Linked DNA regions of Homo sapiens: region 1 is linked to region 2. The links come from fine-mapping of genetic effects on gene expression. A gene starts in region 2. The other region holds a variant in brackets. All regions are shown on one strand. Distances are between the middles of the regions.

The links.
Region 1: its variant is fine-mapped to the expression of OR1L8 in subcutaneous fat (GTEx, PIP 0.93).

The regions. Positions count from the first base shown.
Region 1 is chr9:122,820,524-122,825,908 of GRCh38, reverse strand. It overlaps PDCL (phosducin like), which reads left to right. Exons shown (of 4, transcript NM_005388.5): 3 at 2,712-2,893; 4 at 5,273-5,385. Among named protein-coding and RNA genes, the nearest start is that of PDCL, 5.4 kb to the left of the region's middle. The variant T/C (reference allele first, on the strand shown) is at 2,279.
Region 2 is chr9:122,580,266-122,585,650 of GRCh38, reverse strand. OR1L8 (olfactory receptor family 1 subfamily L member 8) reads left to right here and starts at 2,267. Exons shown (of 5, transcript NM_001004454.2): 1 at 2,267-2,330. It also overlaps a transcript of OR1J2 not described here.

The sequences.
Region 1 (5,385 bases), 240 kb before region 2:
ATTTCTTTATTTTTTGTAGAGATGGGGTCTCACTTTGTTGCCCAGGCTGGCCTCACACTGCTGGCCTCAAGCGATCATCTGCCTCAGCGTCCCATAGGCATGAACCAATGCACTGGGCCCATATTTATTTTTAAGAGGGAACCTAAACTTCTTTTCATAATTTTAAGAGAGATTTTTATATCCTTTGCTCATTTAAAAAATTAGGTGTTTTTTTTCTTCTTGGGGAGCTATAAAGGAAATTAATCTGTGATATGAGTGGTAAATATTTCTTTCAGTTTGTTGTTGTCTTTTGACTTTATATTCTTTTGTTCTTTTCCTGGATGAAAAATTTTATTTTTATGTACTTAAAAGTATTTTATAGTTTCTTAATTTTGCATTTTACTTAAAAGGCGTTTCTTCACCCTACTTTATAAAGGGCCTCACTTTGCTGTATAAAAAGGTTCTCCTGGCTGAGCACAGTGGCTCACGCCTGTAATCCTAGCACTTTGGGAGGTTGAGGCGGGTGGACTGCCTGAGCTCAGGAGTTCGAGACCAGCCTGGGCAACACAGTGAAATCCCGTCTCTACTAAAATACAAAAAGTTAGCCAGGTGTGGGGGCATGCGGCTGTAGGCCCAACTACTCGGGAGGCTGAGGAAGGAGAATTGCTTGAACCCCGGAGGCAGAGGTTGCAGTGAGCCAAGATCATGCCACTGTACTCCAGCCTGGGCAACAGAGTGAGACTCTGTCTCCAAAAAAAAAAAAAGATTCTCCTATACTTTTCATTAGTATTTTTGTGATTTCATTTTTTACACTTAAATATTGATTCATGTGGAATTCACTTTGATGCAGGGTGCAGTAGGGCTCCAGTTTAATTTTTTTTTAGATTGCTACTCAGTTGTTTCAGTACTGCTTAGTGAATAAGCCATCTTTATTATCTTGAGATGTCACTTTTATTATGTACTGAATTTCTCTGTTTATGTTGGGTCTTTAGCTGTACTATGTGGTCTCTTCCATTGATTTGTCTTTTACTGGGCTGTGTCATACTGTTTTTAATTATTGTAGTGTTATATTTTAGTATTTGGTGAGGCTAGACCCTCTTCAATTAACTTTTGCTTTATTTTTTCCAAAGGAAATTTAGGAGCCGGACACATATGTGTGTTCATGTATTTTCATTGGGAATGCATTAAATATATAGATTAATTTAGGGATCATTGGCACTTTTGTGATGTTGAGTATGTCTGTTCAGGAACATGGTATTGCTTTTCCATTTATTCAAGTCTTTCAAGTATTTTTTGGGAGCATTTTAAAGTTGTCTTCATATAGATTTGTATATTTTTTTTCTGTGAAACCAATAGACTCCAAAGCTTTAGTGGCTTATGGCAACAAAGGTTTATTTCTCATTCACGTTACATGCAGCCTGTAGGTCAATGGCAGCCCTGCTTATGTTTCGTATGTTCTTTCATCTAGGAGCTAGGCTGAAAGAATAACAGCCTCAGTTTGGCTGTGTCCCTCTATTTAGGACACACCGTTTTCATGGCGAAGCATAGAGAGCAAGAGAGGAGCTGTTGGAAACATGGAATGGCTCATACACGGCATACTTTTTGTTTTGCTCAGACATGGCATACTTCATATTTGCTCACAATCCCATTGGCCAGCAAGTCGCATAGTCAAGCCCAGCCTCAATGGGCTGGGGATATATGTACTCATCCCACAGGAGGTACCACAAGTCACATAGCAAGGTGCAAGGACATATAAGTCCTTCGGCAGCACAGGGCTTGACGGGTTAAGGGTAGCTGGAATAACAGAACAGGTTGTATTACAATCTTGTTATAAAAAAATTGTTATAAAAAATTCAGAGGCCAGGTGCGGTGGCTCATGCCCATCATCCCATAGCACTTTGGGAGGCCGAGGCGGGCGGATCACCTGAGGTCAGGAGTTGGAGACCATCCTGGCCAACATGGTGAAACCCTGTCTCTACTAAAAATACAAATATTAGCTGGGCATGGTGGCGCATGCCTGTAGTCCCAGCTGCTCGGGAAGCTGAGGCAGGGGGATTGCTTGAACCTGGGAGGTGGAGGTTGCAGTGAGCCGAGATCGCGCCATTGCACCCCAGCCTGGGCCACAGAGCAAGACTCAATCTCAAAAAAAAAAAAAAAAATTCAGATAATATAGAAGTACAGAAAGAAAAAAGTAAAAGATCTCTCTCACCAGTTGCTTAGATCCTACTACCTGGAGACAACCACTGTTAACAGCTTACATATCCTGCAAGCTCTTATTCTATAAACACACAAGTGTATA[T/C]ACAAACATGTATGCATATCTATGTACATAAATTATGTATATACATACAGGTCTTTTTTAATAGAAACTAGAGGATTGTACCGTGATATTCTAAATTTTGCTTTTGTAATAACCTCATATATTTGGAATATCTTTAATGGCAGGAAACACAGAGCTGCTTTACTCTAAGAGTTGCTTTATTTTCCTTTGAGTAGGTAGATGATAATTTTTTAAACTCATCTCCTAATGTTGGGCATTAGCTTGGCCCTTGTTGCAGGGTACATCATTGTGTATAGGCCACTCTGCCCTGTGGCAGAGTACACAGAGTCCCTATGATAATTGTGCAGTAGATGGAGCAAGCTTCAGGCAGATGTGAACTCCTACCTACAGATGTCAGCTGGTCCATAATTCCCTGCCCATTCTCCTTGGTCACATCCGTGTTCACCCTACTCAGGCCCAAAAGGTGTGATCAATGACTGGCGCCGCTTCAAGCAGTTGGAGACAGAGCAGAGGGAGGAGCAGTGCCGGGAGATGGAAAGGCTGATCAAGAAGCTGTCAATGACTTGCAGGTCCCATCTGGATGAAGAGGAGGAGCAACAGAAACAGAAAGACCTCCAGGAGAAGATCAGTGGGAAGGTAATTAGCAGTACTCAGGCTTTTCTTAGAGTCTGCTGTGGCTGCTAGAGCTGGGTGAGTGATTCAAGAGGTGGAGGATGCTTGATTTGACCTCCAAGAAGTTGTGCAGTGCAGGAGAAATCATAGAGCCCTGTCAAAACTCAAACCCACCCAGCTTTGGATCTCAGTTCTGCTACTAGTGACTGTGGGAGAGTCTCTTCCCTTCTGAATCTGGTGTTTCAATGGTTAAATGATGTATCCTCCCCGTGCAGGGCTGTGTTGTTAATATGCCCATCACAGTGTCTGGCCCATTGAAAGTGCTCAGTAAATTTTAGTTTCCCTTCTTTTATTGAGGTTTTATCTTGGGCCAGAAATAACCCTCTTAGGGTGGTGGTATTATCCCCTTCTTACAGATAATGGAAGCAATGCTTAGAGGGCATTAGAGGCTTGTTCAGGGCAATGCAACTGGTAAATTCTAGTAGGCGCTAGGGTTCTAACCCAAATACTCCTGTTTCTTCCATGATGTTGCTATTTCATCTGAAGCCTATTCATGAGAATTTATTCTAAGGAGGCATTATAATAAGCAAACAGATACTCTGGAAGATATTTGGAAGTAGGCACCTGATGGCCTTTTTTTTTTTTTTTTTAATAGAGACAGGGTCTATGTTGCCCAGGCTGGTCTCGGAACTCCTGAGGTCAAGGGACCCTCCCACCATAGCCTCCCAAAGTGCTAGGATTACAGGCGTGAGCCGTGGTGCCCGGCCCGTGATGGCCTCTTATCCTATCAGTATTAAAAGGGATTCACTGTTTCTCTGGATGCCCTCTGAGTGTGGACGAATGTCTGTGAGTGCCTGAGATCATTTAGTTATGGCCCAAAGCTAAAATACCACACAGGATCAGGGAGCAGATAAGAGGATTAAGCTGGGAATCATTCACCTTGACCAGGAGGCTGATTTTAGGACATTACACTTAGCCAAAGACTTCAATAGGTCAGAAGAAGCCACTCTGGTAGACTGAGTTGAAGTGGAGGGCTGCAAGATGGGAGGAAAATTGGCAATAAGTAAAATAGTGAACTCAGAATGTTGCTGGTTATGATAAAGTAACAACGTGTTCTGATCTAGTGTGATCTCCCACTCCCTGTTCCCTAATCTATGCAACATTAGGCAGAGTTAGGTTTTATGAGAGGAGCGAGGATGTCTTGCTGCACCGGGGCAGGGGTAAGATGCTTTCGTAGCTTAAGCTGTCTCTTGGGCATTGTGCCTGCTGCTCACAGCTGCTTCCTGATACTGAGGTGAGAGGCCAGAATGAGGCAACATCATATCATCACATGGATCAGTCTTGTGAGAGGCTGTTCCCGTCCTGCTGATTTATCTGCAATAGAACAGAATTGGAAACTGTCTGGCAGAATTAGGGAAGTGATTAAGCAAAGTGACACATTATATATAATTTCATAAAAATATTTGGAAACATGAGGAAATACTTATAATCGTGCTAAGTCTCGAAAGCAGGTTATGGCTTAATTGGTACACCCACAGCTGCTGCTATAAAAGCAAAACTATTTTAGTATGACTGGTAATAAAAATAATTTTTAGAGTCCATATGACTCTGTGTGTGTGTGTGTGTTTGGGGATGGTGTGGGGCAGGGGTTATGAGAGTTTTTTCTAAAATTCTGTAATGTCTTGTTATCTTTCAAAAAAAAAGTAGATAAAATATTGTCAAGACTGACAAAAAGAAATAAGCTCATGAAGTGAGATTATATGATGCTGCCTATTTGGATTGAGAGGAAATGTGATATTGTAGTTAAAAACATGGGTTTTTAAAATCTAGTTTGAGTACTGGTCTTATGCTTACTGGGTGAACTTGTTCAAATAATGTCAAGTTTTGGAACCTCATTTATAAAGTGGGGCTATTAAAAGTCCCTTCCCGATGGAGTTATGGAATTCAGTGAGATATAATGCATGTAAAGTACTTAGCATGGTGCCTTATATATTATCAGCATGTAGTACATGTTAACTGTTTTATTTCTTTTTATTTTTTTGGAGACAGGGTATCACCCTGTCTCCCAGGCTGGAGTGCACTGGTGTGATCTTGGCTAACTGCAACCTCTGCCTCCCAGGTTCAAGTGATTCTTGTTGTGCCTCAGCCTCCAGTGTAGCTGGGACCACAGGTGCACACCACCATGCCCTGCTAACTTTTTTTTTTTTTTTTTTTTTTAAGGAGAGATGAGGCTTTGCCATGTTGGCCAGGCTGGTCTTGAACTCCTGACCTCAAGTGATCCGCTCGTCTCAGCCTCCCAAAGTGCTAGGATTACAGGCGTGAGCCACCGCGCCCGGCCCATATTAACTGTTATCACGAGTGTTCAGTTTTCATATTTATGCTCACTTGCTGGTCCGCCTGCAGATGACTCTGAAGGAGTTTGCCATAATGAATGAGGACCAAGATGATGAAGAGTTTCTGCAGCAGTACCGGAAGCAGCGAATGGAAGAGATGCGGCAGCAGCTTCACAAGGGGCC
Region 2 (5,385 bases):
TTCTCCAGCCTCAGGTAGTTTATTCACACACATGTTCAGATCTAAACCCAGTCAAAGGCCCAAGAAAGCCCACCAGAAAATATCTGATATTTCTCTCTGCACAATTTCCTTTTTTCTGGTATTGTCCCAAGAATTCTAGCTTTCTTGGCTTCCCTGGCCAACATGGTGAAACGCGGTCTCCACTAAAAATACAAAAATTAGCTGGGCGTGGTGGTGCACACCTGCAGTCCCAGCTACTAGGGAAGCTGAGGCTTCCCTGGTCTTCAAACATTGTCTCCTCAACTAAAAGAGTTTGCTGGAATATTTTTGATTTTTCCTTTCTACAGTGAAGCCTGGAAATGCTCTCCAGATAGTAGGACTGAAAATAAGAAAGATCATCCCTAAGTTTCCAACCTTGTTGAGGATAGCTGTTTTGCATAGCCTTTTAAAAATAGCTTTGTTCATATAATTCCTATACCATAAAATTCAGTGTAATTTCAGTAAATTCAGTAAATTTAATTCAGAGTCGTAAAATTCTCCCAACTATCTCATTTTGAAACATTTTCATAACCCAAAATCTAGTACCCATTAGCAGTAAGTCATTATTCTACCTTGTCCCCAACCCCTAGGAACAACCCATCTACTTTCTTTCCCTATGGATTTGCCTCTTATAGACATGTCATGTAAATGGAATCATATAATGTGGCCCTTTTATACTAGCTTCTTTCATTTTGCATAATGTTGTATATATATACACACATTATATACATATATACACACATATACACACACACACACACACACACACATATATATATATATATATATATTTTAGACAGTCTTGCTCTGTCACCAAGGCTGTAGTGCATTCGTGCAATCTTGGCTCACTGCAACCTCCACCTCCTGGATTCAAGCAATTCTCATGCCTCAGCTTCCCTAGGAGCTGGAAGTGCAGGTGTGCATCTCCACGCCCAGCTAATTTTTGTATTTTTAGTAGAGATGGCGTTTCACTATGTTGGCCAGGCTGGTCTCGAGCTCCTGGCCTCAAAAGATCCGACCCCCCACCCCCGCCTCCCAAAGTACTGGGATTACAGGCATGAGCAACCATGCCCAGCCCATGTTTTCAAGGTCTGTCCATGTTGTAGCATGAATCAGTACCCTCACAGACAAACCCAGGAGCAATACTGTGCATCCTTTAATCCAATCACGTTGACACTCACTATTAACCATCACAGTTGACTAGAAGTGGCAAGTACTGTCATCTTTATCTAGTTCTTGATCTTAGGAGGAAAGCACTCAGTATTTCACCCTAGAGTATGATGTTAGCTGTGAGGTTTTCATAGACGCCTTTTATCAGGTTAAAAAAGTTTTCAAGCTTTCCCGGCTTGTTAAGTGTTTTATCATGAAAGGGTGTTGAAGTTTGTTTGATGCTTTTTCTTCACCTATCAAGATGATCATATGGTTTTTTACATTTTTATTCTTAATATGGTGTATTACATTGATTTCTATAACTTATGAATATATATTTTACTACCTATTATAAATATATTTACATAGCTGATTTAAAGTCTTTGTTTAGTAATTCCAACATCTGGACTACCTCAGAAACAGTTTCTATCTTTCTGGCTACATTTGCCAGGTATTTTTTTTTTAACTAGATATGGGGTCTCACTTTGTGGCCCAGGTTGGTCTCAAACTACAGGGCTCAAGTGAGCCTCCCACCTCAGCCTCCTAGAGTGCTGGATTACATGCTAGCTTTTGTTGTTGCTTTTTTTAGGAGCAGATTTTCTGAAGTCCTTACACTTCAATTCTGAAAATTCTATCTCCCCATGCTACCTTTTTCAATATCTAAAATCACTTGCTTTGTACATTTTGTCTGGCTTTCCTGATGTTTATTTATTTACTAACTAATGTTCACACTTTATTCCTAGTTCCTTACTTTTTCTTTTTTCCTTTTTTTAACACAGAGTCTTGCTCTTGTCACCCAGGCTGGAGTGCAGTGGCACGATCTCTGCTCACTGCAATCTCCACCTCCTAGGTTCAAGTGATTCTCCTGCCTCAGCCTCCCAAGTAGCTGAGATTACAAGCACACACCACCATGCCCGGCTAATTTTTTTTTATTTTTAGTAGAGATGGGGTTTCACCATGATGGCTAGGCTGGTCTCAAACCCCTGACCTCAGGTGATCCACCAGCCTCGGCCTCCCAAAATGCTGGGATTACAGGCGTGAGCCAGTGCGCTCGGCCTATTTCCTTACTTTTAAAATCTAATATCCTTTTTTTGTGTTCCAGGATCCCATCGAGGATATTATATTATATTCAGTCATCCTGTCTCCTTCGGCTTCTCTTGACTGTGAGTTTCTCATATTTTACTGTTTTTTTTTTTGTTTGATGACCCTGACAGTTTTAAGGAATATTGATGAAATATTTTATAGAATGTCTCTCAGTTGGGATTTGCCTGATTGTTTTGCAAAATCAGACTAGAGTGAATAGGGGCGTATCCATTTATTGTTTACTCCATGTTGTCCCACATGGAAGTTTTCCTGAACATTGGTCTTTTGCCTCTTTTGGAAAGTATTTATAAATTTACACATCAAAACGTATTGCTATTCCTGTTTATTGAGTCTCTGATTATATTATGTTAAAATAATATAATAAAATAATCCCATTTCCTTATTCTTTTATATTCTCTCTCTGCTATAATCTATATGATTTAGCTCTATTTTTTATTTAATTCTCTTTTGAGCTGTATCTAAATTGCTGTTGAGCTGCTTTTAGTTTTCATTTTAATTACACTTTTATTTCTAGAGATTTTTATTTTGTTCTCATATATATGTACTCCTGATTATTTTTAAATTGTGGCTACTAACTTTTTTAGTCTCATTCTGTTGTTATTTCTGCTAACTCTTGCTCATTATGTCTTTTTTTCCTTTAACTTAAAAAAATAACTTTTTTTAAGAGACAGGGTCTCACTCTGTCAACCCAGCTGTAGTGCAATGGGGTGTAGCTTACTGTAGCCTCAAACTCCTGGGCTCAAGTGATCCTTCCATGTCAGCCTCCTGCATAGCTGGGACTACAGGTGTGTACTACTATGCCCAGCTAATTTTTTTTTTAATTTTGTGCAGAGATAAGATCTTGCTATGTTGCCCATGCTGGCCCCAAACTCCCGAACTCAAGTGATCCTCTTGCCTAGGCTTCCCAGAGTGCTGGGATTATAAGCGTGAGCCACTGCGCCGAGCCTTGTTTGTATTTTTTAAACTCATAAATTTTGGAACTTTATCTCTAGAAAGTCTTTGAAGTCTGGGCTTAAACCATTTTCCAGAAAGGATTTTTGTTTACTTTTACCTAATTCCAACGTAAACCAAATTCTTCTTAGTTTATTATTTTTAAGCCATGGATGCAGTTTGAGTGTATTCTCAATCTTTCATTAGACGTTGATACTTCTCAGAAGTTTAAAAATATATCCTTGTCAAAAACGCAACACTTCTCAGAAGTTTTAAAAAATATGGTTAAGTCAAAAACGCAGAAAAAGAAATTTGCTTTTTCTTGCTATCTCCAAAAATAAATTAGACTTAAAAAAAATAATTCTTACACTATGAGCTTAGTCCTTCAGTGGTCCTAGCTTTAGGGAAAGGTCTCCAATACCATGATCTCCTCCCCATGCTTTGACACCGTGCTTTGTCTCTTGTTTCTTGTGAAGCTTTAAGAAATAAAGTTCTGTCTTTATTTACTTATTTATTCATTTATTTATTTATTTATTTTGAGATGGAGTCTCACTGTATCGCCCAGGCTGGAGTGCAGTGTCGTGATCTCGGCTCACTGCAACCTCCACCTTTTGGGTTCAAGCAATTGATGTGTACCACCACATCCTGCTGATTTTTCTAGTTTTAGTAGAGACAGGGTTTCACCATGTTGGCCAGGCTGGTCTCAAACTCCTGACCTCAGGTGATCTACCCGCCTCAGCCTCCCAAAGTGCTGGGATTACAGACATGAGCCACTGTGCCCGGCCTCTGTCTTTATTTTTAAAGAAGATTGGCACTCGCTTACCTCTGTGAATTCACATTTTCTTGGTATTTCTAGACTTCTAAATTTTATTTTTCTTACAAGGAAGTAGATATATCTAGGAGTTTTGAAATGAAAATGTGTTCTATGCATTTAGTTTGCCTAATTGCTAGAAACAGGAGTCCTACAAAGATTTTTGAAAATTTTTTGGAAGTCTAATTATAATGACCTACCTTTTTACCTAACTGTAATTGCTTTGACTGATGATCATAATATAATATTTGTCACTTTTTTTTTGTTTTGTTTTGAGACGGAGTCTTGCTCTGTCGCCAGGCTGGAGTGCAGTGGCGCCATCTCGGCTCACTACAACCGCCGCCTCCTGGGTTCAAGAGATTCTTGTGCCTCAGCCTCCCAAGTAGCTGGGATTACAGGCACATGCCACCATACCCAGCTAATTTTTGTATTTTTAGTAGAGACGGGGTTTCAGTGTGTTGGCCAGGATGGTCTCGATCTCCTGACCTCGTGATCTGCCTACCTCAACCTCCCAAAGTGCTGGGATTACAGGTGTGAGCCACTGTGCCCAGCCCATATTTGTCACTATTATGAAATAAATATAAACCATTATAATTATATTTAATATTCAGTCGAATTCTTTTTAGAGCTGGCCTTAGAGAGACACTGAGTATTGCTTAATTTTATAAATAAAGGCCTATTGCTCATTCTAGGACCTTATTTTATTGTAGCTGTGCTGTGGTGTGTTCTTATTACTAAAAGAAAGCAAATTACCATTATAGTAGTTACTTGGGACACTTTTTAGTAGTTTTATTGATCCACAGTGTAGTAGCTTCAGCCTAGAACAAAAGTATATTTTTTAACAACCCCAAAACAAAAAACAAATACAACACAAACATACCCTGACACCAGCACAGTCTTATCACACTTTTAATTCCCTCATAATACAATACAACAACCATTCTTTTATTAATGGAGGATGGGGTAGGGAGTATGTTATCAGTAGACTTAGAAAAAATTAGCTTAGTCATTGAAACCTTTGCCTTTTTTCTAGGAATTCCTTTCTCATATTCTTGTGTCTTCTTGGCATTGTTACGATCTTCAGCATGAGTCATATGCCCTGAAAAATGCAGACTGTACTAAATACCTTAGCACTGGTGTTCCTCTGCTTTGACCATATGGAAACTTACATTATTACAGATTAGACCTATCAACTAAGGGAAACAGAAAGGTTATTATTCAATGGTTTTATTTGTAAATGATCATTGGCACTCGGCATTCATTCTGACCGCATTCTAGTGTGCCATCCTGTACGTCGAAGGCTAGAAATAAAAAGAATACATTTCCTAGAATTCTTTACAGTTAGAGTCCTCAATATGAATTAGTTGGGTGCA